Homo sapiens: one gene and its partners. The protein of the gene in region 2 interacts with the protein of the main gene of each other region in a pairwise test. Each region holds a gene or a part of one and is shown on either strand. Other genes may lie near its edges.

Region 1 (7,052 bases), on a different chromosome or scaffold from region 2:
GAAGTGAAATGATATAAACGTGGGAGTCTAACACTGTCTAAAGCACATAGTGGGAACTCAGGGTTTGCCTACCCTTACCTCCCTCCCAAATTGCTAGTGTTAACTGGCTCCCAATTAAAAAGGAGATTACAAATCCTAATGAAGACAACAGGTAACTTTTCATCATGGAAACACCCTGAATAGCAAGATCATATAATCATAAAATGTTAGTGCTGGAATGGACCTCAGAAATCAGCTAGTCCAGCTTCCTTTATTTCATACCTAAAGAAATTGATCTAAGAGACTAAGTTACACTTACACTATACATCTGGTTAAATGTCAAAGCAGGGATGTAAATGTAGAGATTCTAGACAGCCTAGACAAGTTTCTTTATACGACATCAATAATTATAGCACAAATTTTCCAAAGACAGGAAACATTTTACCAGGTTATTAGAGACAGGAAATGCATATTTCATTAGATTCTCAAATATGGATCTTCTTGTCCGCCCCTCAGGTTTATGAGCAAATCGTAAATTCCTAATATCCTAGAAAAGATTTAGGAACCAAGTTAATAATTGTTCACTACTTACTTAAATGAATAAATAAGGTTACTTGGAACTATCTTGTAAAATGTTAAGATCTGTGAATGTGGGATACAAAAATAAATCAGACATCAGCTCCTGGAGACAGGGAAATTATAATGGTTTATTGGGAAAAACTGAAAGAAACACAAGGTACTCTACTATGAAGCAGAATTCAGAGGGCAGGAAATTTACCTATGCTTATGGACTCAAAATAGGCCAGTGAAAGAGGTAGTATTTGATGTAACCACTGGAGATTAACGATATTACATCTGAAGATTAATATCATGACTGATACAAACTATCAGCATATGTGCTTTCCCTGTGAAAGCCCATTTTCTGTCATAAATTTCTTTATTTATAAAACCTGATTAGTAGTTGTTACATTTCATACGTGTCTTCAGTTCATTATATCTGGTGATTATTTTCCTACTAACTATCCCTTCCCAGGGTTCATTTGCATTGGACCTTCTCTTCCTAAGTCCCCTGCTACTAGTAGACTTGATAGAACTAAACCCTGCCTGAAAGTGTTCCTTCCTTCACTCCATAACCACATTCTTCCACCATCTACTGACACATAACTCTGAATAGTTTAGTTTATATTATCCAGGCTCTACAGTAAGGTCTAAAGACCAAGTTTCCCTTCCATTTGTCCCTAAGCAGTTTTCTATGCTCAGACTGAATGCAGTTATTCATGTTCCGGTTTACTGGTATCTTAACAGCACTTAGAAAAAAACTGGGGATTAAGATAATTTCAAGGGCCAGGCACAGTGGCTCATGCCTGTTATTCCAACACTTTGGGTGGACAAAGCAAGAGGGACACTTGAGGTGTTCTACTTCTAAAACAGTGGTGGGGAAAAATTGGTATTGTAGACTTTTCCTATGTTCTTATCTACCGACATTCTTTAAATGCATTGATTGATACTTGAATGAAACATGAATTGTTACAAGTTCAAGGCCAGCCTGGGCAACATAGTGAGACCTTGTCTCTACAAAAAATTTTTTAAAAAAAATTTATAAGAAAAGAATAATTTTAAGACTGATCATTTTATTTAAATGTTTTTACCTAGGCAGAATTCAAAATAGCTTTATTATGCCTCATTTTGTAGAACCACACACAAAGCCTCTCCACTACAGTGTACCCACAATACATAAGTAAGACAGTATATGATCCAAAACTAGAATGCTGGCTTTACTATCTTTTAAAATAAACATGTGCGGGAACCTAAGCTGATATCTTGTTTTCCCTCAGTAAATATCTTTATAACTAGGTGAGATACTCAGAATCATTCTGTTAACCACAGAGTTCTCTGAAAGTACCATGTCAGGGGCCCTACAAATATTTTTGTTTATTGATAACGATCCTGTTCCATGGAAAGAAATTATATTTAAAATGATTAAGATTCAAAATTATCTTCTTTCACATCGTCTTATATTCTATGCACTACTTACTCTTAAACTACAGAAAAGTGATCAGGAAACAGTGTGCTTGACACATGGTTGCCAGCGATTACACTCACAGAGCCCTTCTGACTATAATGGAAAACCACAGGCCAGGCACAGTGGCTCACACCTGTAATCTCAACACTTTGGGAGGCCAAGGCGGGCAGATCACTTGAGGCCAGGAGTTCAACACCAACCTGGCCAATGTGGTGAAACCCATCTCTACCAAAAATACAAAAATTAGCCAGGCATGGTGGCATATGCCTGTAATCCCAGCTACTGAGGAGGCTGAGGTAGGAGAATCACTTGAACCCGGGAGGCAGAGGCTGCAGTAAGCCAAGATCACGCCACTGCACTCCAGCCTAAGCAACAGAGCCAGACTCTTGTCTCAAAAAAAAAGAAAACTACAAAAATAATTACTAAGTCATTAGCTTTAATACCAGAGTCACAAAACTTCTAAGATTAGCATAACAAAGTATCTTGAATTATACACATGCTGTTTCTTTTGGCACTGGCAGAATAAAAAGAAAGGAACAATGTGATGTAGAATCTCAATGTGCATGGGTGTTAGTTAATTAGGCCTTAATAACAGTGACCTGGAGAAGTGGTACGTAGAATTAAATACCTATGACTTAATGGTAAAAATGTAACAATCTATGTTTCATTCAAGTATCAACGCATTTAAAGAATGCCAGTAAATAAGAACATAAGAAAAGTCTACAATATCAACTTTTCCACACTATTGTTTTAGAAGTAGAAAAACTGGCCGGGCACGGTGGCTCACGCCTGTAATCCCAGCACTTTGAGAGGCCGAGATGGGCAGATCACGAGGTCAGGAGATTGGGACCATCCTGGCTAACATGGTGAAACCCCATCTCTACTAAAAATACAAAAAAAAATTAGCTGGGCGTGGTGGTGGGCGCCTGTAGTCCCAGCTACTCGAGAGGCTGAGGCAGGAGAATCCCGTGAACCCAGGAGACGGAGCTTGCAGTGAGCTGAGATTGTGCCAGCCTGGGCAACAGAGCGAGACTCCGTCTCAAAAAAAAAAAAAAAGAAAAATTATGAGAACTAGAAACAGAAAAGATAGGTGATGATGAATATAACATATTTAGTTATTTAGTTCTTCCACTACGAAGTAGTGGAACTGCTCAGAGCCTTATGTTGCTAATTTGTAAATTAAAGGTAGTAATGTCTATTGTGCCTACCTCACAGGATTTTTATAAGGCTCAAAGTGAAATCATCAATGTGGAACTATGTGGTATCCTATCAGTACTATGTGCATTAAAGATGGTTATTATTATTATTATTATTATTATTATTATTATTATTTCAGACAGAGTCTTACTCTGTTGCCCAAGCTGGAGTGCAGTGGCACTATCTTGGCTCACTGCAACATCCGCCTCCCAGGTTCAAGCAATTCTCCTGCCTCAGCCTCCCCAATAGCTGAGATTACAGGTGCCCGCCACCACGCCTGGTTAATTTTTGTATTTTTAGTAGAGATGCGTTTTCATCATGTTGGCCAGACTGATCTCGAACTCTTGACCTGATGTGATCCACCTGCCTCAGTCTCTGAAAGTGTTGGGATTATAGGCGTGAGCCACCATGTCCGGCCAAGATGATCATTATTAAAAAATAAGTTATGAATTTGTGAATATATCAAAATATGTAGACTGAACTGGGCCCAAAAGAATTAAGTCTAATTCATGAATCACCTTTTCTATTACTGCTAAATTTTGTTTTCTTCTATCAATGTCATACTAAAATAACATTTCTAATTGGAAATCCATTTTATATTTTAGAAACCAATTTCAAAACAGAGGTTCTATTTAATACAAAGCTTTTCAAACCAAAGAAAATCACATACATATTATAACATTTACCTTACACACAGTTTCTAGTCCATAAGAATTTTCACCTCGACTAGAAGCACCACCAATTTTTTCTACTCTATTTATCACACCAAGGGAAGCATCTAAAACAAATGGGGGATCCTAAAGAAGGAAAGAAAAAATAATTAAAACTGAGCAATTAATACTGTCCAATTATAGAGCTGATCAAAATCTTAATCAGAAATGCTTTAATTAGAAATGATCAGAAATGAACAAAACTAGCTACAAACAACACACTCATGTACATACAAAAATCTAATCTGACTCTTACCCGTTCCATGCTTTTGAAATATAACCTATAATTCGTGACAGTCAGAGTTCCTCGTACAGCGCCAGTGAATGGACATATATAAGTTACATCTTTGGCTGAAAAAGCAAGAAGTCCACAGTTTACTATACATTATGTGCTATTAAAACCTGCTATCTCATCTTATAAAATTGTTATGATTCCTAGACTAATTTATGCTGAAAAATAACAGAACCAGTAATTTCCAGAGACCTCAGAATCCTACAACCCAAGCTTCCATCCTTGCACTAATCTGGGGAAGAAACACAGAATTAAATGGGATAGGCTGAAAAGGTGGAGGGACTTCTCATCCCATGAGACAGAATGGAAGTAAACAAAGGGGCTACTATCCTGGCTAGATAAAACAGGTGTGGGTAGCTGCAGCAGAGACGGGTGAAAGAATACTGGTAATGGTGGTATCAACAATAAGCATGTCAAGGCACAGTCGCCATCATCTCATTGCAGTTTCTATGTAACCTCACCAATTTCCTGTCCAGTTTGTCAACATTCTTCTAAAAATGCAATGTCCAAAACATATGTTATTCCACAAACTCCTGATCTGATTAATACTTATGGGGAAAATTTTACAGGTGAAATGACACACATTTAAAATATAATTTCTTAGAAAAATAACAGTATAAGAAGAGGATATTGTACTGCTGACCAACCAATGCCAGACTTTGTAAAGAAATAATCACAAGTAATGTTTTATCAAATAAACAATGGATCTACATGGCATTATGTTTTGTAAAATATGCATTAACTGATTATGCAGGATAACTTAGGAATCAGTATCTCAAAATATTATTTAAAATGCCACAGTTCATAATTTCCAATACATGGTTTTTATATCTTAAAATATTCATAAATTCCTAGTATGTCATTATTACACCAAATCAGCAGATAAAGGAGTATCTTCATCATTCCAAGGAAGTAAGGGACAATTCTGTGGAGCAACAACTTTCTAAGACCCTTTCAACGGGCTTCTGGGAAAACTTGGGGCCATGAAATATATTTAATAAGGTATTACAACCTCCTGACTTTGCTTCTCATTCAACACTTCGAAGGACTGGCTGCTTTGTATGGAATTTGAAATGAGACTGATCTTTTCACAATCATTTCTAACCTTCAAAATAGTTCCCTTAGGAACATTTTAAGTATAAACTACTTTTTTAAATCGTTTCGAATGCATATTTCATTTAGAGGGAAGCTTTTAAAATTAAATGAACCCATCATTATACAAAAATACACAAACTTGCTTTGCACAAATAATATTTTTCCCTTATGAATTTTTACCTCAACTAGAAAAGCTTTATTCAAGGTTACTAAAACATTTCTGGATTCCTTCCACAGTCAATTTTCTTACTCATGTAAGAAAACTCAGCCTTATTATCCTATATCCCACCACAGGAATGTCATTCTCAGGCCAGTGCTTTTCTGTTACATCTTCCCCTTTATTCTAAAATCATGAGATAATATACATATAAAGATGCTTCTAAAGTTCTAAGTACAATACAAAAATTCAAGGGTTTATACCTATGTTACTATTATCATCATTAGTCTTTGCTTTGTTCTGTACCCTCTATCATTCCTCAAGAGATCATGACAATGGAGAAAAGAAGATAAATACAAGAAATTCTTAGACACTGACTGGATGTTAAGAGTCCAGAAAAGAAAAAAAGAGCAGTCTAGTACGACAACCAGATTTCTGACTTGAGTAAATGGACAGCTGGTATTGATGTCAACTGAGAGAGAGAATGCAAGAAAAAGAGTAAGTTTGGAGTTAAACGTGATGATTTCCATTTTGGAGATGTTGGGTATAAGGTTCCTATGGGATATTCAAGGATGTGTGTTTAAGATAGAGGCATTTGTTTACTTACATTAGGACAGGGGTTCACACTGGAGATAACAAATTTTGGAGTCATCAGCCAATATATGGCAAGTGATGTTACAAATTTAGATATGGTCAACCGAAAAGAGTATACAGGAGGGAAAAGGGAAATGGGTCAAGGATGAAGTCCTAGGGCGTGTTGCTATTAAAGGAAGAAGAGCCAACAAATGAGACTGAGTGGTAACTTGAAGTTCTTTAATAAAGCCATATTTCATAATGGGAGCTGCAATTACGGCATTAAGTTCAGAATAAGAAAAAGAAATTGTCACAATGCTAGATATAACCTTATTAGCTAGGTTATCTTCCTATGCCTTAGTTTCCTTCCTCACCTATAAAATGGGGTTGATGTTATTCTCAAGAATATACTCTCTGAGAATGACTGAGATAGTAAGCACTCAATAATAATAACTACTATCATTATATAATAGCCAATTCTGAAAAAATGTAAGTAGGTAGTTCAGATCAAGAGCTTGGTGTATATATAAGGCTAACTGGGGAAAAGAAAAAGACTGAGAGGTTATTCAATCAAGAGCCAAGAGCAAGAAAAGACAAATAGCATGCTAAGGACTAGGAAGCTAAATTTAGTAAATAATAATCCATTTAGAATACAGGTCCTGCCTTTGGCTTGTTTTTACACATAGAAATGACACCTAGCCAAGTAAAATTCAGCATTTTTAAAATCCTTTTTAAAAATTATGATTGGTAACAAAATGAAACATGGTAGTTATATTAACTAAGAAATCATTTACTTCATTCTTCTAACATATTACTTTATTTCTCAGAGTTTATGAGTAGATATCTGTAGATTATCACACAGATGAAACAAAACAAAAGCATGAGGAAAAAAAACACAGCTTGTAAGCTCATTTTCAGTTTCCAGTCCATATTATAAGTATTAGGCTGGGCAGAGAAGGGCATCTACATACAAACAGATGCAATGGAGATGATGTATTTCATCCAAAAATTAACCTGACTTTATTC
Region 2 (7,052 bases):
CACGGATAAAGATATGTGGTTCTTTTGCTCTAAGTCATGAATGTTAAACAAGTATGTGAGTGGACTTTTCATCAAATGAGTTTTGGAAAGTGCATGGCAGGTGGGCATGTAGAAGTAGACCAAGGAGAGTTTGTCTCCTAGGATAGGCAGGAGAAGCAGGCACCTCTGTGCCCCTCAAACAGAAAAGGACAGAGCCTTAGAGCTGAAAATAGAAATAATTTTGCTACAGTCAAGAAATATTAAACTTTCTCCAAAGTAGAGTTAGTGGAGGACTTAGGAGTGGAGGAAGGGATGTCTGAGGTGAGTTTGAGAAGCAGCTGAGCCATGAAATAGTGAGTTCAGTGACGGAGGCGTCCACACCCCAGGAGGAGTTCAGTGACGGAGGCTTCCACACCCTAGGAGGGAAGAGCTTTAGTCTTGGCCTGCGGAGCCTGGCAGGTCATCATTATGTGGGTGATTCTCCTGTCTCTGTGTGGCACACCTAGACCCCCACAAGCTGAAAGTAGCTTTGCAGTGCTGCATTTATTTATTCAGTATGCAAATCCACATTTAGTACCAGCGTATGCCAGAACCTGTACTAGACATGCTAGAGCAGTTCATGTCTCAGTCTGAAAACATAACCCTTTGTTATTGGCCCTTGCCTTTAGGGAATAAGAACATGACTGTTAATAGTAGACCTTGGTGTTGGGAATCCTACTTTTAACTGTGCAAGTGAGAGCATTCTGAAACTTTTTAACATTTTATGCCCTCCTTCCTCTTTGCACTGCTGCTGGGGCCTCTCCTAGAGGAGAATGCATCCGACCTCTGCTGTCTCATTTCCTCTCTGGTGCAACTGATGATGGACCCCCACTGCAGAACCAGAATTGGTTTCCAGAGCCTCATCCAAAAGGAGTGGGTCATGGGTGGCCACTGTTTCTTGGATCGCTGCAACCATCTCCGCCAGAACGACAAAGAGGAGGTGAGTTCCCTCACTGCAGACTGTTTCCGTCATAGGGAGAACTACTGAATCTCTTATTTAATACCTGTCATCAGATGTAGTAGGATTGCTGCTTGCAAAGTGTAAGCCAAACAGGTTTGTTAAGAAAACTAGGATCGTTTCATTGTGTGATGACTTTGGATACTTTAAATAATAGTGAAACCTTTCCCAGAGGAAAGAGATATTAACAAGTATGTTCAGAGTTTTCTAAATTGTGTACACCAAGGGTGTATACATATTTCACAGTGGGAATAATATTTATTAATAAGACTTAAATATAAAGTAACTCAGTGAGGGAGACTCCTACCTTTTCTACAAAATTAGTCTTTGCAATAAAAAGATATTCAGGGTGCAGGTTTTCTACAGAAAATATAGGTTGAGCATCCCTTATCTGAAAGTCATGGGACCAGAAGTGTTTCAGATTTCAAATTGTTTTGGATTTTGGAATATTTGCATTCCATTACTGGTTGAGCATCCTTAATCCAAAAATTGGAGGCCTGGCATGGTGGTTTGCACCTGTAATCCCAGCACTTTGGGAGAACAGGAGTTTGAAACCAGCCTGGGCAACATAGACAGACCTCATCTCTACCAAAAATAAAAATAAAATAAAATAAACTGGGCATGGTGATGCCTGACTACAGTCCCAGTTACCAGGGAAGGTGAGGTGAGAGGATTGCTTGAGCCTGGGAGGTCAAAGCTGCAGTGAGCCATGATTGTGCCACTGCACTCCAGCCTGAGTGACAGTGAGACCCTATCTCAAAATAAATAAAGTTTTAGATTTTGGAACTGAATGATTTCAGATTTTCAGAGTCAATTTTTTTTTTTTTTTTTTTTTTTTTGAGACGGAGTCTTGCTCTGTTGCACAGGCTAGAGTGCAGTGGTGCAGTCTCAGCTCACTGCAGCCTCTGCCTCCTGGGTTTAAGCTTATCTCCTGCCTCAGCCTCCCTAGTAATTGGCATTACAGGTGTGCGCTACCATGCCTGGCGAATTTTTTGTATTTTTAGTAGAGATGGGGTTTCGCCATGTTGGCCAGGCTGGTCTTGAACTCCTGACCTCAAGTGACCCACCTGCCTCAGCCTCCCAAAGTGCTGGGATTACAGGCATGAGCCGCCACACCTGGCCATTCAGAGTCAATTTTCCTTGCACATAAACCTTTTTGAAATAAAGCACAGGGGCCAGGCACGGTGGCTCCCACCTGTAATCCCAGGACTTTGGGAGGCCAAGGCAGGTGGGTCACAAGGTCAGGAGGTCGACACCATCCTGGCTAACACGGTGAAACCCCGTCTCTACTAAAAATACAAAAAATTAGCCGGGTGTGGTGGCACATGCCTGTAGTCCCAGCTACTTGGGAGGCTGAGGCAGGAGAATCACTTAAACCCGGGAGGCAGAGGTTGCAGTGAGCCAAGATTGTGCCACTGCATTCCAGCCTGGGTGACAGAATGAGACTCCATCTCCAAAAAAAAAAGAAGAAAGCACAGGGTTATGTTAATGCCATCTGTTACCAGGGCCTTAGTGGTAGCGTGGGTGGGAATGTCCCCATAGCCTCTTCTGCTTCTGTCTGGACTAATCGCTCCAGGCCTGGACCTCCAAGTTCAGGCACAGGAGAGTTAGCATTTTAGGTCACCTGGTGAAAATGAGTCCCCCAGATTGTGGTGTACATGTCTAGATGACAGCTGTACACACTCCCTTGGCTGCCTTATTGATGATTGTTGGAAGGAAAAATGAAAACACACAAACTTTCTTTAATCAACTCACCTGCAGCGCTGACGTATGCTAGCAGTGTTACTTGTGGTTTTTCATACTCCAGGTAGTCAGCATGTCTGTCTGTGGTACAGAACAGCTTGACACAGAATGCTGTGGGCACACAGAGCCATGGCTCCTGATCGTAAGGGCTTGGCAGGTTCCTTGGGTGATCCAGGTCTCTCTCACTGAGCAAGATGGTTTCTTTCAGGCCTGGCCTGTACTTATCTGTGTCCCATTGAGCTGAATAGAAATCACATCTTTCAGTCCTGGAAGGGACTTGAAGAAACTAATTTGAAAGGTTGATGGCATTTACATAACATGGGAGGCAGAGAGAGCTGATACTTTGTGGAGACGAGTATGGTTGTTTTTTTTCTTTTCTTTTCTTTTCTTTTTTTTTTTTTGGAGAAGGAGTTTCGCTCGTGTTGCCCAGGCTGGAGTGCAATGGCACAATCTTGGCTCATTGCCACCTCCTCTTCCTGGGTTCAAGTGATTCTCCTGCCTCAGCCTCTTAAGTAGCTGGGATTACAGGCATTCCCCTCCATTCCCGGCTAATTTTGTATTTTTAGTAGAGACAGGGTTTCACCATGTTGGTCAGGTATCGAACTCTTGACCTCAGGTGATTCACCCATGTCAGCCTCCCAAAATGCTGGGATTACAAGCGTGAGCCACAGCGCCTGGCCTTGTTTTGTTTTTGAGACATGGTCTCTCTCTGTTGCCCAGGCTGGAATACAGTTGCACAGTCATGGCTTACTGCAGTTTCAACCCCCTGGGCTCAAGCAATCCTCCTGCCTCAGCCTTCTGAGTAGCTGGGACTATAGGTGTACACTACCATGCCTAGCTAATTTTTGTATTTTTTGCAGAGATGGGTTTTGCCATGTTGCCCAGGTTGGTCTCAAACTCCCGGGCTCAGGCGATCCATCTGCCTCAGCCTCTCAAAGTGCTGGAAATACACACATGAGCCACTGCGCCTACCCATATGTTTTTGTATATCTTGAGAAAAGGGGGACTGGCAGGCACCATGTCTAATGGGGAAAGAGTCTGAGGTCTAAGAAGAGACCTGATCTGCTGCTGTTCACCCAGCCCTTGGAGAAGTCACTTGTATTTTCTGAGCCTATTGCCCTGCCTATACATTGCAGTTCAAATATTTTCCACTCTATTTAATGATATTATGCATAAAATGAAGTGTGAAATAAAGTTGCTGTACAAATGTTTCTTAGCATCTCAACATGGACATATTGGAGTTTTGAAGGAAAATTGAAAAGAAACATGAGCCCTGTGTGAGACCCTGGGGACCGGCCTCCAGGCATCTCCAATCTTCCCTTTCCTCCTTTGTAAGGGAGAGACTAACATAGCTTCTCTTAGCCCCCTGGCAGGATCACTGGTTAATCAGGGAGGATAAGCGCTTTCTAAATGATAAAGCACACTAGAAACTACTCTCCCTGCTCATCAAGGGCTCGCCTCTGGGAGCTAATAAATGAGGCTTGTGGATTTGTAAAGATGCATTTTGAAAACATTTTGAAACTCACTTTCACTGCTTCTCCCTTGTCTCCCATCCCCGTTGTCTTCTGGGCCCTCACTGCGGGGTGGACAGGAGGCTTCTCCTTCCACGTTGGTCTCCAAGATCAAACCCTGTCAGTTAGTGTGTGGGCAGGTGGGGAATAGAAGTTCCCTCCCACCCCCCGTAACTTTTCATTGACAAAATTCAAAGTAGCACTCATAATTAAGTACATTGTTTGGTAATACAGTACTACTAATGGAAGAATGGAATTTTTTTGGAGGAGATAATATTTTGCTTAATTGGGGTTCTAAGTTAGTGTTTTCTATTATCAGAATCAATTGCAGATGCTCATCTGTAACACTGATCCATAATGAGGTTTTTACATATTTCGTCTTTGAAATGTCTTTGACACAGATAGGCATGTAAATCGCAAGCATGTGATTTCAGTTGAGCATATTTCTCACTTGGGATGGTATGGAGTATTCTGTGTTTCCCAGAGAATGAAGTCCTCAGAAGTGCTTATTCCACAGCTGTTGAGGTGGCTGCCCCCTGAACTCAGGATGGCTTGCTCTGGGCTCTGCCCACCAAGTAACGTATCTTGTTTTCATGCAGGTTCCTGTGTTCCTGCTTTTCCTAGATTGTGTCTGGCAGCTGGTGCACCAGCATCCCCCGGCATTTGAATTCACAGAGACTTACCTGACTGTTTTGTCAGATAGCCTGTATATACCTATTTTTAGCACCTTCTTCTTCAATTCACCTCATCAAAAAGATACTAACATGGTAAGAGTCCCTCTTAGGAACCTGTGTATTAAAGAGGCTTCTTCTCACAAGTAGGATGCAGTAATACTGATGCTACAAATAAAATGGTGCTCACTTGGCAGCACATACACTAAACAAAGTTGGAATAATACAGAGAAGATTAGCATGGCCCCTGCGAGAGGATGACATGCAAACTCATGAGACGTTCCATATTTTAAAAAAGATATTGAACACTAACTACATACCAAGCATTGGTCTAAGAGCTTCTTAGGTATTAATACTTACTCCTTACAGCACCCTATGGCATATGCATTTTTATTATCCTGGAGGAAGCTGAGGCAAAAAAAGGATAAGTAACTCACTCGTGGTCACATGGTAAATATTGGAACTGGAAGCAAGTGTTGAAGCTGGGGAATTAAGCAAAATTCAAAGCTGTCCATTTGAAAGACAGTTAGACCAGATGTCCTCCGATTTTGCCTGATGCCTGGAACTCCTCTGTGAAGAGAATGGGGACCAGCAGATCAGGGAAGCTAGCCTTTTCCTTCCATCTTAACCCTTTTGGCCCTTCCTGGACTGTGCCCCCAATTAGATAATCTCAGTGCTTCTGAGCAGCCTCCTGAGGGCTACAGGCTTTGCTTGAGCTGGGAGGATTACCAAATCCCCCAGTGAAGTAGGAGCAACAGCCCTGCTTTCAGAGCTCAGCCTTGTGACTCACCAGCTTTGTGACCTTGGGCAGTTCAGTTTTCTGAGCCTTGGTTTCCTCAAATGTAAAATTGGAAAAACAACAGTTGCCTCGCGAGGCTGTGGAAGCACCCAGCACAGCGGCTGGCGTGTAGACTGCTGGAAAGGAAGTGTCCTTGTTCTTGCCCTCCTCCCACACCAAAAGCTTGTAGTGAATAACCACAGGTAGCCTCAGCCTTAAATGCCCATGATTATTCATTCTCAGGGCAGAGCAGGAGCATGCTTCCTGGTGCCTGTGTCCAGAAGTATGTGTTTGCCTTCCTCAGCCCTCCCTGGAAAACAGCATGACCTGTGCTTGTTTTGGCAGGGTAGAGAAGGCCAGGATACACAAAGCAAGCCTTTGAATCTGCTCACCGTGTGGGATTGGTCGGTGCAGTTTGAACCCAAAGCCCAGACATTGCTCAAAAACCCTCTTTATGTGGAAAAGCCAAAACTGGACAAAGGCCAACGGAAAGGAATGCGCTTCAAAGTAAGATGTCCACATGTCTAAACCCCCTTCAGCTGCCCAGACCCCGTGCATGTAATGATAAAAGGTACTTACGGATTCTGTCTGCCAGCATTTTCTACCCCTCGAAGCAGTCTGCAGAGTTGAGACTTGTGATGGTCAAATTGTCAAGGGCCATTAGAATCCTTTGCTTTCAGCAAATCACCTTTGCCCTGGTACAACAGGGCCATTTGCCAGATGTCACTGTGGATGCTGCCACCCTGGTCATACTCCATGGAATCGTGCCTCTTGTCCTGCCTGTGTGTGTGTGTGTGTGTGTGTGTTTGTGTGTGTGTGTGTGTTAGTAGAGTAAAAGGAACATTGATTGTGTGGGTTTTACTTGGCCGATACCAGTTCATTTATTATAATAAATAGTAAGACTTTTCTTAATGAGCTGTGCCTGTAAACCACAGGTTGCAAAACTCTGTCAAGGGCTGCAAAGTCTCTGTCACAACTACCCCTCTACTGTTGTAGTACAAAAGAAGCCTTAGTCTGCTCTGCCCTTGGAGTAGCCATTCTTTATTCCTTTACTTGAAAAAAAAAAAAGGAGCCTTAGTAGGTGAACAAGTAGGCATAGCTGTGTTCCAGTGTTTACGAGAACAGGCGCCAGGCCAGATTTGGCCGGAGGGGTGGCCAGTTTGCTGACCTATGCTATGAGCCACAAATGTCAGAAAGTCATTTTAGTTGATAATCCCAAAGTTCCCTAACTGATGAATTATTTAACTGACATTTCCTAGCTCTGTCTCCAGGCCCAGAATTTCTCCCCCACAGAGTCCACAAAGGAGAGAGCAGTGATGGTAAGTCTAAGTCGATGTGTGTCACTGCCTTCTCCATGCCATCCTTATCCTGCC
Region 3 (4,075 bases), on a different chromosome or scaffold from region 2:
CACTTAGTCATTTAAGAGTCCTATTCTGATTTTTTTTCTTTAAGCTCTGTTCCACGTGATCTATTCTGATTGCCAAAAAATGGTCAATTTTAGTTTACTGCTACAACTATTCAGCATTCTTAGAACGTACATATGTAAACGACATAATCTCCAACTGGCAATATTGTTTGAAGAATTTTAAAAATTCTTACCTAATGAGACGTCAACTATGGCTTATTTAACCAGTATCTTCGCATCCCTTACTATCAACTGCTGTGTTCCCTATTCAGAGCCTGGAGTTTTGCGCGTTCACTTTTGCAAAAGCCATCCTCATAGACAGTCGTGACTCTTAAAATCTGCACTGTTTAATACACTTAAATGCCCAATCTTGCTGAAATTTTGGGAGAGCCCTGCAAGGTTGCCGGTGAGATAAAAAGTACATGAAGCAGACCCGGGCAAAGAAATCAGATGGCCACCATGCACATTTCCAACACATGCACACTCACAGCCCTGAAAACAGTGTTAGGTTTCAGTTAATACATTTATTACAGCAGGTCTTTAGTCATTATTGCCATTAAAAAGTTTTCATGAAATTTCACAAAATCTTTTAGGCTATTAGTATTAGCTTTCTTTTTATGGAGTGACACTTTGTTAATTTATGAAATATTTACAGCATTTACAAAAAGTAAGAGAATGTCTAATAAAATTTCTTATACTTACAAAATTCATACATTATACTACTGTATTTGAGATGTCTTACTTGGTAGACCAATTAAACTATGACATAAAATAATTTACAAAGATATATTTAATCTTTCTTAATTCATTGAAAACAAAACCATATTAGTTATAAATAGTCCTTTACAAATCATTGTAAAACACTTCATTGTTTTAACTCGAGCCTTAGCTTTTACAAATATACTTAATAAATGAATTAGTTCAGATAGCAAATAGAACTGTGCATTTAAAATTTCACTTAATACTATAAAACAAAACAACCTGAAAAAGCAAACGGCCTGGTACTTCAAGTAAAAATTTGTAGAACCAGTTTTTATGCACGCGTGGGGTGGGGAGGGGAAGCCAACACCATTGAAATTGAAATGCATAAACACAATACTTTCAAGAATACGCTCAACACATGTACATCTGGGGCACTGATTTCTAAGGATGATGCTCTAGCAATAGCTCATGCATCCAAGACGGTAGCCCTACATTTTGGCAGATGAGCTGGACTGACTAGAGCAACATTTGCGAAAACATTCCCCTAAGCAGCAGGATGCTCCCGACATCCTTGGACAGTGCTCTCTTTGGGGTTTGCCACAACCCGAAAACCATTCCGAATTTTAGGCAAGCTCATGAAAGAATTTAGAAAATAAAACTGGCAAATTTAAAAAATGCAAATCATATTTAACTGGGCCCTGTCAGTTTTTTAAAAATATAAAAATAGGCTTCTCTGGAAAATTAGGGGAAAACATTTTCTACCCCTAAATTTCCAAATAATGAAAAACTCATCTATACAGCTATTTCTCCTTAAGTCACCACTCATGATGGTATAAAAGCTGGCAATTACTTAAACACCTTGCTTTTGGGTAATGCCTAGGAAGCTGAGCTCAATTTGGTTTTGGCAGTAACATGCATCTTTCACATTTGGATTCATCTTAGAGAATCCAAAGCAACTGTTAAGCAGCTTCAGGAAAATCCATTCCACAAACATATATCCCCTTTGATTTTAAAATAATGTTGTTTCAATTAAGCCCACAAAATATATATTGTATATATAGTATTTCTCAAGACGTAAATTAAATCTAAATTTTGTCTTTCAAAAACTGCTTTTTAAAGGTGTCAGGGTTTTCCAAAACCTCATCTCAGCTCCTTTCTTCTGATTGCCGTGTGGACCCTGTAGTTTTCTTGTAATATGTATTCTAGAAGGCACATATTCAAGAGTTTAAGATTATGTTAGTTCAAGTTCTACATGGAGGCAAATATTTTAATCTACTTTTTACAAATGCCCCAAATGAAAGTCAGCTATCGCCTTTATTTCGAGCTCTAATGCGGTGCCAGGGTCCCCCCTCAGAAGTGAGTTTGCACATGGGGCATCATTTGCGAAGGACTGGAAGGTGAAGTTGGGGGATCAGAAAGCTTGGCAGAGTTGGCGAGCTGCAGTTCCTCAAGCCGCTTTATGTATTCGTCGCGTAAGGCTAAGAGCTCCATGTAACGCTGCTCCACTGGATTCGGCTGCTGGAGAGAACCAGAGACTTGAGTTACACTTTATGCCACGCACGTCATGAGAACTCACGTGTTCCACCCATCTGCTGTGACTGCTGATTTGTAAATAAGCCCTTTACTCAAAGTTTACCATAATACATACTTTCCTTAACTACTGCCTCATTGACACATACAGGAAAGTACAACACAGAGTACTAAACACCCAAGTACTAAGTATTTGTTCACCAAGAAATACCTAATGTACACATTTCCTCACACGTGTCACTATCTTTGAAAATGTGTCAGCCGAGACACAGCTCCAGTCTCCCGTGTTGCCCGTCCCAGACCCACTGTCCTCTTTCACTCTGAGGGACAACTCTTCTCAAGTTGCCATGTGACCTTCCTTTTTGTGCAGATTTGTGACACTTTTCCTGTGAGTATCCAGCAACAAAATACAGTATTACTTTGTGTTTTATCAAAGTTTACATCACTGGTACCATCTGGTATTTATCAATTGACATTTTGACCCAACATGTTTTCTGAATTTCATCCTTGTTAAGTTGCATTGAAGGAATAAACCAGTTTCTCCACCCCTTCCCAGGCTGATGGGTAATCAGTGATTTCCAGGGCTCCTCGGTAGTGTGTTCAATGCTGTACTGAGTATCCTTGTACACATCTCCTCAAGCACATATGCGAGTGTTTCTCTAAGGAATTTTCCTAGGGGTGGAACTGCTGAGAAGTAGAATATGGTCTTTTCAACCTCACCAGATGCTGCCAAATTGCCTGCAGAGAGGCTCCTGCTGGTGATACCTGGCAGTTCCCATTGTTCTGCATTCTCACTAGAACTTGGGAGCATACGATTATTATTCTTTTTTCCAATTTGAGGGCTGTGACATGGTATGTCACGGTAGTTTTCGTTTGTATTGCTCTGCTAGAACATCTTTTCATGTGCTTATTGCCCATCTGAATACATGGCTGACAGCCATAGCGGCTCTGCAATGCTCCGCCTTGGGTATGAATGCTGGGTTTGCCCCCTCACCTTCTGTGTGCCTCCATTTCCCTATCTGTAAAATGGGAATCAAAACAGCATAGCCCTCACATGGCATTGTGTGAGTGAAGTGAGTTAATAGCATCTGTTTTGCTACAATGGTGACTACTTTGATGAGTAAACAAGGGATTGATGTTGATACAAAGGCAGAAGTCAGGCTGGAGCATAACGTGACTCTCCCAGCATGTTAAGTTTTAAAAGTTTTGTACTGAGATATAAACCACACACAGTGCAAAATCTTCAGATGTTCAGCTCAGTGAATCTTGACATACGTATACATTTAGGTAATCACACCCAGGTCAAGATATACAACAGAACAGTACTCCAGAAAGTTAATGTTTTGAAGGGATCAGGGGCAAGCACTTTCTAGAAAGCTTAAGCAATATATGAAGACCTTAATGTAAAACCCAAAACCATGAAAACCCTAGAAGAAAACCTAGGCAATACCATTCAGGACATAGGCATGGGGAAAGACTTCATGACAAAAACACCAAAAACAATTGCAACAAAAGCCAAAATTGACAAATGGGATCTAATTAAACTAAAGAGCTTCTGCACAGCAAAAGAAACTAGCATCAGAGTGAACAGGCAATCTATAGAATAAGAGAAAATTTTTGCAATCTACTCATCTGACAAAGGTCTAATATTCAGAATTTACAAGGAACTTAAACATATTTATAAAAATAAAAGATAAACAACCCCATCAGAAAGTAGGCAAAGGATATGAACAGACACTTCTCAAAAGAAGACACACAATGCGGCCAACAAAGATATGAAAAAAAGCTCATCATCACTGATCATCAGAGAAATGCAAATCAAAACCGCAGTGAGATACCATCTCAT

The links. The genes of interacting proteins can lie anywhere in the genome.
Region 1: the proteins of MTMR12 (region 2) and MTMR2 interact in binary tests that used the Homo sapiens proteins (3 or more experiments, as listed by UniProt).
Region 3: the proteins of MTMR12 (region 2) and MTM1 interact in binary tests that used the Homo sapiens proteins (3 or more experiments, as listed by UniProt).

Annotation. Positions count from the first base shown.
Region 1 is NC_000011.10:95,858,107-95,865,158, forward strand, and holds part of MTMR2 (phosphatidylinositol-3,5-bisphosphate 3-phosphatase MTMR2), read right to left. Parts: intron 4,261-7,052; coding exon 4,166-4,260; intron 3,997-4,165; coding exon 3,886-3,996; intron 527-3,885; coding exon 425-526; intron 1-424. UniProt on the Homo sapiens protein: Lipid phosphatase that specifically dephosphorylates the D-3 position of phosphatidylinositol 3-phosphate and phosphatidylinositol 3,5-bisphosphate, generating phosphatidylinositol and phosphatidylinositol 5-phosphate.
Region 2 is NC_000005.10:32,232,907-32,239,958, reverse strand, and holds part of MTMR12 (myotubularin-related protein 12), read left to right. Parts: intron 1-785; coding exon 786-958; intron 959-4,829; coding exon 4,830-4,997; intron 4,998-6,024; coding exon 6,025-6,186; intron 6,187-7,052. UniProt on the Homo sapiens protein: Acts as an adapter for the myotubularin-related phosphatases. Regulates phosphatase MTM1 protein stability and possibly its intracellular location. By stabilizing MTM1 protein levels, required for skeletal muscle maintenance but not for myogenesis.
Region 3 is NC_000023.11:150,669,570-150,673,644, reverse strand, and holds the end of MTM1 (myotubularin), read right to left. Parts: intron 2,218-4,075; coding exon 2,050-2,217; 3' UTR 502-2,049; downstream 1-501. UniProt on the Homo sapiens protein: Lipid phosphatase which dephosphorylates phosphatidylinositol 3-monophosphate (PI3P) and phosphatidylinositol 3,5-bisphosphate (PI(3,5)P2). Has also been shown to dephosphorylate phosphotyrosine- and phosphoserine-containing peptides.